Regions from separate parts of the Homo sapiens genome. Here regions 2, 3 and 4 are each reported to be linked to region 1. Evidence: microRNA targets listed by miRTarBase, many of them from high-throughput screens and not tested one by one. Region 1 holds a microRNA gene; each other region holds the end of a gene's coding sequence.
What was found. Region 1 holds the annotated microRNA hsa-miR-4465 (CUCAAGUAGUCUGACCAGGGGA, at 2,296-2,317, shown strand). A microRNA usually pairs through its seed, bases 2 to 8, with sites in the 3' UTR of a target mRNA and lowers its output. Matches are read on the target gene's strand: a 7mer-m8 pairs with bases 2 to 8, a 7mer-A1 pairs with bases 2 to 7 and ends in A, and an 8mer does both.

Region 1 (3,272 bases):
TATATTCTCTATATATCTCTCTATATCTGTAGAGATATATATTCTCTATATATCTCTCTATATCTGTAGAGATATATGTTCTCTATATATCTCTCTATATCTGTAGAGATATATGTTCTCTATATATCTCTCTATATCTGTAGAGATATATGTTCTCTATATATCTCTCTATATCTGTAGAGATATATGTTCTCTATATATCTCTCTATATCTGTAGAGATATATGTTCTCTACATATCTCTATATCTATAGAGATATATGTTCTCTACATATCTCTATATCTATAGAGATATATGTTCTCTACATAACTCTATATCTATAGAGATATATGTTCTCTACATATCTCTATATCTATAGAGATATATGTTCTCTACATATCTCTATATCTATAGAGATATATGTTCTCTACATATCTCTATATCTATAGAGATATATGTTCTCTACATATCTCTATATCTATAGAGATATATGTTCTCTACATATCTCTATAGATATAGAGATATATGTTCTCTACATATCTCTATAGATATAGAGATATATGTTCTCTACATATCTCTATAGATATAGAGATATATGTTCTCTACATATCTCTATAGATATAGAGATATATGTTCTCTACATATCTCTATAGATATAGAGATATATGTTCTCTACATATCTCTATAGATATAGAGATATATGTTCTCTACATATCTCTATAGATATAGAGATATATGTTCTCTACATATCTCTATAGATATAGAGATATATGTTCTCTACATATCTCTATAGATATAGAGCTATATGTTCTCTACATATCTCTATAGATATAGAGCTATATGTTCTCTACATATCTCTATAGATATAGAGCTATATGTTCTCTACATATCTCTATAGATATAGAGCTATATGTTCTCTACATATCTCTATAGATATAGAGCTATATGTTCTCTACATATCTCTATAGATATAGAGCTATATGTTCTCTACATATCTCTATAGATATAGAGCTATATGTTCTCTACATATCTCTATCGATATAGAGCTATATGTTCTCTACATATCTCTATCGATATAGAGCTATATGTTCTCTACATATCTCTATCGATATAGAGCTATATGTTCTCTACATATCTCTATCGATATAGAGCTATATGTTCTCTACATATCTCTATCGATATAGAGCTATATGTTCTCTACATATCTCTATCGATATAGAGCTATATGTTCTCTACATATCTCTATCGATATAGAGCTATATGTTCTCTACATATCTCTATCGATATAGAGATATATGTTCTCTACATATCTCTATCGATATAGAGATATATGTTCTCTACATATCTCTATCGATATAGAGATATATGTTCTCTACATATCTCTATCGATATAGAGATATATGTTCTCTACATATCTCTATCGATATAGAGATATATGTTCTCTACATATCTCTATCGATATAGAGATATATGTTCTCTACATATCTCTATCGATATAGAGATATATGTTCTCTACATATCTCTATCGATATAGAGATATATGTTCTCTACATATCTCTATCGATATAGAGATATATGTTCTCTACATATCTCTATCGATATAGAGATATATGTTCTCTACATATCTCTATCGATATAGAGATATATGTTCTCTACATATCTCTATCGATATAGAGATATATGTTCTCTACATATCTCTATAGATATAGAGATATATGTTCTCTATATATCTCTATAGATATATGTTATCTATATAAATATATATTCTCTCTATATATAATTACATACACACATATATATGTATGTAATATTAGACAAAATCTCTAATAGCAAGACAAACATGCAACCCTTCCGACATTTTATTGTTATTAGATATAGTGTCTAATATTACACATATGGCACAAGCCTAGAAGAAAGCAATAGTAATAGATCATTTATCTGTGTTAATTAAAGAGGTAAAATCGTTATCTAGCAAAATATGTTGAATTTAACAAACTGCATCCAGAAAAAATTCTCTAGTTTTACCATTTCTAGAAGAGGATGCAATTTTTGTTCTTTTAAGTTTTGTTCTATGTGTGTGGGGTTGGGAAGGGAATGGGGGTGAAGGCGTGGCTGAGAGAATAAAAGCCTTGAGAAAAGAGGGCTTGCCTTGCTCCTTATGCTGGAGAGATGTCCAGGAGGTACCACGGTTGGTAGTGCTGCCTACAAAGGATGTTACAGTTGAATTTGTCAAGTTCGTTTCTTAGACAGCCCTGCTCTGGTCTAGCCCAAGCTCTCATGTGTCCCCTGGCACGCTATTTGAGGTTTACTATGGAACCTCAAGTAGTCTGACCAGGGGACACATGAGAGCTTTTCATTGATTGCATTCCCACAAGCATATTTCCGTCACAAGTGGGGCATGTATCTCTTGTTTGGTTTGTTTTTAGTTTCAATAGCATATAACTTGCTTATTTCGCTTCTATGGATACTACCTGTGCCACTAAATAGGTCCCCTTAAACCTCTTGCAAAAAAGAAGGAAGTATTATTTACTCTACTTTTCTCTTTTAACCCTGAAATGAACATACACATTGTTAAAAATATTTATGGCATTTTATTGCTACTAATTATGAAAAAAAAAAGAAACAGCAGGAAACACAAAAGAGCAAATGTCGGTCTACATTTAAAGCAACCATAATGAGGACTCTCCCAGTGTTTTTTCAACTTCCTTAATCTATGGACCATTTTCAGCTAAAAAATAATTAATGATAAGTACACTTTAATTCTAAGTATCAATTTTTATAATATCAGCTAAAAACATACCAACAAAACTTATATATGTTTTGATATAATTGTATAAAATAAAATTTTTATGTAAAATAAGATATAAACTTATTTTACTTATAGCTCTGAAATCTATTAAATTTCATTTTCAAATAAAATACTAAAGCTTCCTACCAAATCACTAAAATTCAAATTAACAACATTAATTTAATATGCCATAGATTATAATTTTTATAAAAAAATACAATTACCAATGAAATTAAAACTATGAAGCAATACTTTCTCACTTTTGTCATTCTTATTTTGACCCTTATTTAAATTATAGTAGTTATCGTTGCCTTTATTTTTGCCTTTAAAAAACTCAAAATTTTAACTATCAGGGAATTATTTTGAAGATCCAATCAATTCAATCATATTCATAAAAGGCAAAAAAATTTTGGAGTATGAAGTCCTTTATTATATATTTAGTATCATCATTACTTGTTCAAAATTAAATCTATACAACACATCTGCCAGTGAAATAATTATGACAC
Region 2 (3,000 bases), not on the chromosome of region 1:
GGAGGCCAAGGCAGGCAAAAAAAAAACAAAAACAGACTAGCTGGGAGTACTGTTTCTCTTTTTTTAAGCATACAGTCCTGGTGGAGAAATATCTGCATGAACTCAAAATATTAATCATGATTGTCTCTGGGTGGTGGGATTATCAGTTATACAAATCATTTATACAATTTTTTTCCTAAGCTGTTACCAAGGAAGTAAAATCTGATGAGGTAAATGTGGCATTCGTATCCTTAACCTTTACCATCTCTTCTAGAATGATTCCAGCTTCCTCAGTACACTTCATGAAGTCTACTTGCAGGTTCTGACCAAGAACAAAGACAACCACAACCTATGACTGGAGCAGAATAAGTCTAAAGGCAGAGCCCCAGCCTCAGAGACAAATAGGCTTCATCATGGAAACTTCTGAGCAGAACATTGAGTTTGAGAATCCTGAAATTGAGCCTATGAGAAAGAGACTCATTTCTTAAGAATGTTTTCCAAGTGACATTCTCAGTGATAATGGAGGTTTCACTGTGAAGCATCACCAGCAGATCCTTGTTTTGACAAAAAAAAAAAAAAAAAAAAAAAAAAAGAGAGCGATCATTGTGTTAAGTTATGTGGGTGTTTTCATCAGCTAGGAGCAAGGCTGTGGAATAAGGAGTCAGATTCTCAGCTTGCTTTCACTTTCAAGGACTTACAGAGGAGTAGTCACCAGCCTCACAGCAGAAGTTCAGCCCGGCCCCCACCGCTTCCCCCAGCCTACCCCATAGAAACGGGCTTTGGGCTGACAAGTCAAGTTTTGAACAGAGTAGAAGGCAGCTCTGCAAAGTAGCTTCTAGTTTTTAGGACCAGAATTTAAGCCGGCAAATTAGGAATTATTTCCTCAAGTGAAGTATATTTTATATGAATGCCCCATTTGGGCCTTAAAAGTTGTGAAATTTCTTAATAGCATTTTGTTTTTAAGTGCCCCAGTCCTGCCCTGCAGCAGGCCCCCAGTGCAGCATTACCATTTGAATAGGGCACTGTCAGGCTCTGGTGGTGTGGACACAGGCATGTCATACCTTTGAAGGAAAGGCTGGGGCTGGGAATGCCCACATCCTATCAAATCTTCATTTTAGGTTAAACTCTCCATTGGTTCTGAAAATGCTAAGTTTGTGTGTGAAGCACAGCCTTATTTTCCTTTTCTGTCATTGTTGATTGTTTTCCTTAACACTTTGACAAAAGGACCAGTGGACCAATCTGACAAAGCCATTCTGGTTCCTTTCCTTGAGTGTACTGAGAATAGTTTTAAAGCTATGCAGAAAAGGGAGCTGTTATTCACACTGCCCTTATTTTGTTGTAGAATTATGGAGTTAAAAGAAAATGTGATTCCGAACTCTACCAATGTATTCCTAGGCTGTGAGTACTTTCCCGGCCCAAAGTGTGAAAATATGTAAAGAAGCTTTGTTATGCTGCTATTGATCTGCCATGATTTCTATTTATTCTTTTATGGCATGTAATGGTGTTTAGTAATATTTTAATGTAGATTTTGATTTATTTCAGCAATAGTAATTTTAAGATATTCTTTGAATGAAAGTGTCTTCGTTTCTATGATACAGGTCATTTTGTAGTATTTAACCAATTAAGATGCACTGCTTACTTTTCTGAGCACTATTTAATGATGGGGTAAAAACCCAATTGGCTCAACCAGCTAGCATAAGGATTAGCTGTGAATAATGCTGACAGATATGATGGTTCCTTAGGAACAATCATTTAAGCTTTAATGGTAACTCAATCATAAGTCCATAGATTATTTTTTTCTAGCTAAAATTTTAGAAAATTACTTGTGAATTACATACTTGTTTTAGTTTGGTCTTAGTTTTTAGCATAAAGAATGATTGGCTTTTGTTGATCTAAACATGCTTCCTGGACAGGGTTTCTGCTTCTCATTTTAGTGTCTTCTATTGCTGTCTACCTAATTATGTGTGAATTGTGCAGAATTCAGGGAAGCTTATAAGTTTTCATGCTCAATTGTGAATAGTTTGTTTTCACAGATAGTATGTAAATTAAGCAACCAAAAATGAATTCCTTATGCATCATCTGGGAACGAGAAAGCTATAGTGGGATACAGAGTGTTGCTGACACCGGGAGATGGTGTCCAGGGAGCCACGTGACTTCCATAAAGTGGACGCACCAGTAGGTGTGATTGCACCTCAAGTGTAGTCTCAGTGGGCTTCGGTGAACAGACGAATCAAGGGATTCTTGAATCGAAATTATGCTTTTGAGTATGTAATATTATGAGAGAGTTAAGAGAGAATATCCTAAAGAGAGTCTGTGATCATACTAATTTTCACCTTTAATGCTAGGAATGGATATGATAGACAGTAAAGAGCATCTATGATAAGGCTTCCTTAGTGTGAAAGTAAACTTAAGTGCCCAAGTCATGGAGACTTGAAAAGGGTAAACCTGTTTCACCTCCCAAATTTATATATTCAAAGTATTTACTTAAAATTCAGAAGCCAGAAGTTCATGTCATGATTACCAGGAAGTTCAGGCCAGAATGAATCCCTAGAGAAGCCAGGCCAAGCCTGGATAATTGCAGCTGGATGACCCTGGCCCGAAAGTCACAGTTCAGTTGCCTTATTCCTAGTTCAGGCTTACTATCTAGAACCTCATGCTAGCTTAGGTTGCATGTTTACATTGCTGCAGTGTCTTTACTGGAAGCTTAGTTGGATCGAAATGGACACCGAGATGGAGATGCTTCTGGCTAGATTTCGCAGAACCCCAGGAGACCTGCATTTAGACCACTCTGTCCATTTGTGTGCCCACCCCCACCCCCAGGGTCTAAGTGTAGACTCCAAGAGGAGCAGCCCAGAGCTTGGAGGAGAGGTGTGTCTGGGGCACCACTGGTGGGTGGTGCTGCTCTTCTTTTTGTTGTAGTTAATGCGGTGTCTTTTAATGGACTCTCAGGCCTCCCAGACAGCCTTGTTCCTTTAAGGCAGAAGCTCTTCTTCATTGTGTACCTCCTGGGATTCATGAGGT
Region 3 (3,272 bases), not on the chromosome of region 1:
TTTTTCAAAAGAAGCTAGAAACCCAAGGTTCTTTTCTTAATTATACGTTACATAGGTATACACGTGCCATGGTAGTTTGCTGCACCTATCAACCCGTCATCTAGGTTTTAAGCCCTGTATGCATTAGGTATTTGTCCTAATGCTCTCCTTCCCCTTACCCACCACCCCTGACAGGCCCCAGTGTGTGTTGTTCCCCTTCCTGTGTCCATGTGTTCTCGTTGTTCAACTCCCACTTATGAGTGACAACATGCAGTGTTTGGTTTTCTGTTCCTGTGTTAGTTTGCTGAGAATGATGGCTTCCAGCTTTATCCATGTCCCTGCAAAGGACATGAACTCATTCTTTTTTATGGCTACAGAAACCCAAGATTTTTTTTTTTTTTTTTTTTTTTTTTTTTTTTTTTTGAGATGGAGTCTCGCTCTTATCAGCCAGGCTGGAGTGCAATGGTGCGATCTTGGCTCACTGCAAGCTCTGCCTCCTGGTTCCAAGCAATTCTCCTGCCTCAGCCTCTGAAGTAGCTGGGTTTACAGGCACCCGCCACCACACCTGGCTAATTTTTGTATTTTTAGTAGAGATGGGGTTTTACCATGTTGGCCAGGCTGGTCTCGAACTCCTGACATCAAGTGATCCACCCACCTCGGCCTCCCAAAATGCTGGGATTACAGAAGTGAGCCACTGCACCCTGCCGAAACCCAAGATTCTTATGTGAAATTCCCGTTTCTCCATGCAGCAACCAGTTCTGTTTTTTAAGACCACGGAGGCCAGGCCTGGTGCAGTGGCTCATGCCTGTAATCCCAACCCTTTGGGAGGCTGAGGCAAGAGGATTGCTTGAGGCCAGGAGATTGAGACCAGCCTGGGCAACATAGCAAGACCCCAATCTCTACAAAAACATTTAAAAATAATAGATAAATAAAATTTTAAAACCATGGACGCCAGAAAATACATTCTTGGTAGGATTTGTAAGGGTCCCCAGTTGTAATTTCTGATGCAGGAAAGAAAAAAAAATCAAGAACCAATACAGTGCACAGATGTGATTCCAAAATAGAGATTTATTTATTAAGGATTATTTAGTTTCTGCATAAAAATCTCCAATTGTTCCTCATTGGGTTTTTTCTTTTAAAACACACATCAACTCTTTTGGGGTTGCTTTGTTTGCCCCAGCACTTTAAAAAATACAGCTCTTTTTAGCGCCAGGAAGAACAGTTAAGGTTAAGGCAGTGAGGCGTTTTCTTGGATCTTAGCAGCTGAAGGGTTCATCTCTCCCCGTCAAGAGAATACACACGGTAGGTAGTTTCTTAGGTTGGAAAATCTGTCCCTGAAGGAAATAATTCTGCAGAAGAATGCAAACGGAGTCATCTATGGTCAATTGTTTGTGCCCTATAGCTTTGAAAGAAACGCCTCTTGGTCATCAAGGGCTTGCTGGTTGGTTTCAGCTGTAAAACAACAACAACAACAACAAAAAACAACCAGAAAAAAGAAAACAAACAAAAAAATCTGTCTAGCGAGACAGAAAGAGCAGGGTTTACAATAGTGCTGTGAGGCTGGGCTGTGCAAACCACATGAGAATACACACCAGTTTGCTTTTTAAAAAATCCCACATAGGGGCCCTGCATAATTTTAAATCAAACTCTTTATAGTCCTTAAAATAACAATACAGCGAGAGCCTCATAAGGTCACGTGCTTTTTTTTCTTTTTTTTCTTTTTTGAGACAGAGTTTCGCTTTTGTTGCCCAGGCTGGAATGCAGTGGCGCGATCTCGGCTACTGTAACCTCCACCTCCCAGTTTCTAGCGATTCTCCTGCCTCAGCCTCCCAAGAAGATGGGATTACAGGCGTGCGCTACCATGCCTGGCTAATTCTATATTTTTAGTAGAGATAGGGTTTCACCATGTTGGTCAGGCTGATCTCAAACCCTGACCTCAAGTAATCCACCCACCTCTTTTTTTTTTTTTTGAGACAGAGTTTCGCTCTTGTTGCCCAGGCTGGAGTGCAATGGTGCGATCTCAGCTCACTGCAACCTCCACCTCCCGGGTTCAAGCGATTCTCCTGCCTCAGCCTCCTGAGTAGCTGGAACTACAGGCGTGCGCCACCATGCCCAGCTAATTTTTTATATTTTTAGTAGCGATGGGGTTTCACCATGTTGGCCAGGCTGGTCTCAAACTCCCGACCTCAGGTGATCCACCCGCCTCAGCCTCCCAAAGTGCTGGGATTACAGGCGTGAGCCACGGTGCCCAGCCATCATGTGCTTATTTTTAAAGCGAGGTGGATGACACCATTCCCCCAGAGCTGTGTTCCTCGTTGGCAACAAAACAAAACCAAAAAACCCTAGGACTTGACTCATTAGAAGTGTTAATCGGTTTTTACCACGCTGAAATGAAGGTATAAAGTCAGTCTGTGCTGTCGTGAAATTCCAAGGAGATTTGGAAGTAAGATCATTATTTACTGGTCCTTTAGAATAGACCAAAAAAAAAAAAAAAAAAGACTTAAAAAACGAGGGCTGTCCCCTGCAGACTCTGGCAGGACCCTGGGCTGCTCTGGGGGACACAGGCCAGGGGCAGTTCACCGACTTGATTCACAGTGATTCTGGTTTGCCTGTTTCTCCATGTGGCCACGAGTCGGGGACGTGTCCAGCAGTGGGCATGCCTACACCTTGTAGTTAAGCTCAGCGTTCATCTGGGTGTACATCTCGTAGATGACATCGATGGTCGCCGTGTAGTTGACTAGGAAGAGGCGGATCTTCTCCAGGCACTCCTCCTCCGTAACATTCTGCCCCTTGGAGAGCGCTTTCAGGAAGTCAGACTTATAGGGTGCTGCGTACAGTGCTGCCTTGAGACAGGCAAGAAGGGAGGTAGGCACAGCGTTAGCGGGGGCTGAGGAGCCAGGCCAGCAGGCCAGGGTTCTGGGAGGGGTCTTCCCTGGGTCTGTGCTGGACAGGGGGTTGTGCTATTTGAGGTGTTGGAAGGGAAAGGAAAAGGGAGGTGTATTTTGAGCGACAGCAGGAAGGACATCAGCTTTCGGGACAGACAAGCCTAGATGCAAATGCCAGTCTGGGCCATCAACTAGCTGTGAGCCTTGAGCAAGTCAGTTAGCCTCTCTGAGCTTCAGCTTCCTCATCTGCAAAATGGGGATAATGGCTGCCACCTAATCGGGTTGCTTTTATAAGGATTAGGGGGCTTGTACAAAGTGCTCAGCACAGCACCAGGCATACAGTAGGCACTCAGCACAACACCAGGCACACAGTAGGTGTTCAGCATGGGTGAGTCTCTTCCCTCTGGG
Region 4 (3,000 bases), not on the chromosome of region 1:
TAAGGCACCTCAGCTTCAGATGTGACAGTCATCTTTGCTTAGAGTTCTGATAATCTATATACATGATTTTTACCATCTTGAGAATGTGAAGCTGAAAAGGTAACATCCAACAATGATTACTGTGAATAAGAAAATTACTGTGATAAATGGGAGAGACGTTGGAGATCTCTGTTCTACCTCCCATATTTATAATGAGGAAACCAAATCCCAGTCAAGAAACAGGTGACACCAGTTTGTGTAGACAAATTCCTAATCTGTTTCTGTTAGGGCAGGGCAAATTCTAGACTTCTAACTTTGAATTAGTAAACCAAGTGTGAAGGGTTTCAGAGATATGAATTGGAGCCCCCTCCCCCCACCAAAAAAAATCCTCATAAATCCCCAAAGGCAAGTTGGAAATGTGTAATAGTTTACTGTTGTAATTCGTTTATACCATGTGTTGGACAACTCAGCTAATATGTTAATTGATTTATACAATTCCTTTCAATTTTATCTAAAAATAAGCAGACCAAAATTAAATAAGAAAGTTACATAAGATTCCATTTGAGCATACATAAGGCCATGATACTTTAATGTGAACCACCATTTCTTGGAAGAAAGAAGACATCCAAATGTCCGATTCAGAGAGAAAGTTCCTGGCCAGTCATCCAGTAGACTCTCTCCACTCTTCAATGGGAAGGTGATGCTTATATTTTTAAAAATCTCTACAAAGCTCACATACAACAAGACAGTACATCCTAGATTTGTGACTGATATGAGCATTTAAGGCTGTCATTTTCAAGTATAAAAGTTTAGTGTTCCATTACCCAATCTGTGCAGTAGACATAGCTATAAGCTCAAGTCATGTGAATTAACAGAAGCCCACCAAAGACATTTAAAAAATTATAATTTGGGCAACAGCAAGTTTAAATGTAGGAAAGGCTAGAAAAAATGTGATGAGATTGTTTCTCTAAAATGCATTAGGTTGTTCACAATGAAGCTTTGTCTAACACCATTATCTGATGCATCCATTATCTGATGCATGGCATATGCAATAAGGCAGATCCACAGCAGACCAAACAAGGAAGCTGAATTAGGTAATAGAACTAGTAATTAAGATGGTTCACCTCTAACACAGTTCTGTGGCCTGTTCCCCCCAGAGAAAGATTAGAAATGGCTCCAGTGTACCAAATAAGCTTCACAGAAGAACATGAAAATTTTCCTCCAACTTTTTTTTCTTTTTTTTTTCAAGCAGAGCCTTTCACTTAGGGACCAACTGCTTGTAGATGAAATAAATCAACATTAATTACTTCTAGCCTGATGTAATATGGCTGGAGAAAAGGGGTCTCTGGAAGCCGGTATTTTGTTTAACTTACATTCTAGGTGTGTATATAAGTTGTCGCTCTATAACTTCTGCTGTGGTTCCAACATCTATATCTGAAAGGTGGAAGCAGCTGCTCTGTTACAATTTTCATGTAACACGCTTGGATTCTAGGTCTTTCCTCTTTAACACAACTTAAAGAAAGTTTCTTGTGGTTTGGTCAGCATACACACTTCTCATTTCATTTGATGTACACAGCCAAAGTGGGAATTAAAAAAAAAAAATTACCAACTAGTTCAGAGAGCTAAATTGAGTCTATCATTATGGCAAAGTCTGACCCAAAATTTTAATTTGTAATTTTAGCATGTGTCTCATGCACTTTGGGGAGCGTCAAACTAAATCTACAATTGCCAGAAGCCTTGTTACAGTTTAATGCACATTAACTAAAATGTGTACATTTTTAGTGTTCATGATAAATGCAGTTATGACCTTATTACACTTTTGGCATTCTTTAAGAAAGCACATTAAGCTTTAATATAGAAATATTTAGGTTACACTTGTGCTCAAGTAATAATAAAACATTTGTTCTTTTTTGATCTCATACATTCTCTCCTCAGGTATGGCCCATCTCCTGTACGCTTGGAGCGACCTTTGGCTACGTGGCTGGCCTTGTTATTTCACCACTCTGGATATACTGGAATAGAAAGCAACTTACATACAAGAACAATTAACTGGAGCAAAGGGAGATATTTCTTTGTGCAGATTCTGTAAGGGCTGGGCAGAAATGTGTATGGTCAAAGCCAAGCAGTTCCATTTACAGCTCTGTTTTTTACGTAGTTACAACATGATGTGATTGTAGCTTTTTAAACTATGAAACCCCTGAGAGATTGTACCTTCTAGTTGAAATAAAGTATTTATAATAGATTGTGGCTTCAGATGCTGCTTACTGCTTCTTAAACCTTTAAGGAACATTCTTAATACACTTTATAGAATTCTGAGGACAGGTTTTGTTTTCTTTCAAGTTTTGAACTGCTTCATTACCTATAAAAGGTCTGGGTATAGCTGTAGCATTTCATTTGCTTTCTGAGAGAAATGGACAGTTTCCTTGGCCACTGAAGATGTTTCTCACGTAATTAAACAACAGTTTATACATCTTGATCCTATTCTTTTTTTTACAGTGTGTTTCTTTGGAGTTAAAATGGCTATGATAGCCTCATCAAAAACAGTCTTCAATCCCTTCTGGGTTAAAGCTGAACATTCCACATAGCAGCATGCTCCTATCTGGGAGGGAGAAAAAAAATCACAAATATATAAGATCATGTTTATACAATTGGCATGACATAAACACATCATTATAAAGAAAATTATAAAATACAGCTATGCAAAAAGAATACATTCATCATCCATGTTCATAACCCCAGAGGGGATTTTAAAATACTAGTATATGTCCTTCCAGACTTTCTATGAAAAATTATTTCACTCACCACATATTTACTGGGTATCTACTATATGTCAAGCACTGTTTAGGTCCTGGGGATATGTCAGTGAACTGAACGAAAGAGCAGAGTCCCTGCTGTGTGGCGTCCACATGTGCTGACATCTGCTGGGTAAGAGGCACAGGGGAGGGAATACAGAGCAGATGGTTGCAAATGCTGTGGGGAAAAAGCAGAGTGAGGGAGGCGGGGAGTGCTGAGGACAATGGT

Region 2: miRTarBase lists DCP1A as a target of hsa-miR-4465. Seed matches in the 3' UTR shown: 7mer-A1 at 2,408-2,414.
Region 3: the mRNA of GLTP is a reported target of hsa-miR-4465. Seed matches in the 3' UTR shown: 7mer-m8 at 1,916-1,922.
Region 4: miRTarBase lists RHOQ as a target of hsa-miR-4465. Seed matches in the 3' UTR shown: 7mer-A1 at 2,314-2,320, 7mer-m8 at 1,861-1,867 and 8mer at 774-781.

Annotation. Positions count from the first base shown.
Region 1 is chr6:140,681,560-140,684,831 of GRCh38, forward strand. MIR4465 (microRNA 4465) reads left to right here and starts at 2,255; the gene lies at 2,255-2,324. The region is part of intron 4 of LOC105378027 (a long non-coding RNA gene); the gene reads left to right.
Region 2 is chr3:53,284,914-53,287,913 of GRCh38, reverse strand. DCP1A (decapping mRNA 1A) reads left to right here. Exons shown (of 10, transcript NM_018403.7): 10 at 254-3,000. The coding sequence ends at 334. All of the region lies in intron 1 of LOC107986087 (a long non-coding RNA gene), which reads right to left. Among named protein-coding and RNA genes, the nearest start is that of TKT, 30 kb to the right of the region's middle.
Region 3 is chr12:109,849,916-109,853,187 of GRCh38, forward strand. It overlaps GLTP (glycolipid transfer protein), which reads right to left. Exons shown (of 5, transcript NM_016433.4): 5 at 1,030-2,822. The coding sequence ends at 2,640. Among named protein-coding and RNA genes, the nearest start is that of TRPV4, 18 kb to the left of the region's middle.
Region 4 is chr2:46,580,506-46,583,505 of GRCh38, reverse strand. It overlaps RHOQ (ras homolog family member Q), which reads right to left. Exons shown (of 5, transcript NM_012249.4): 5 at 1-2,578. The coding sequence ends at 2,423. It overlaps PIGF (phosphatidylinositol glycan anchor biosynthesis class F), which reads left to right. Exons shown (of 6, transcript NM_002643.4): 6 at 1,915-2,569. The coding sequence ends at 2,028. Among named protein-coding and RNA genes, the nearest start is that of RHOQ-AS1, 1.8 kb to the right of the region's middle.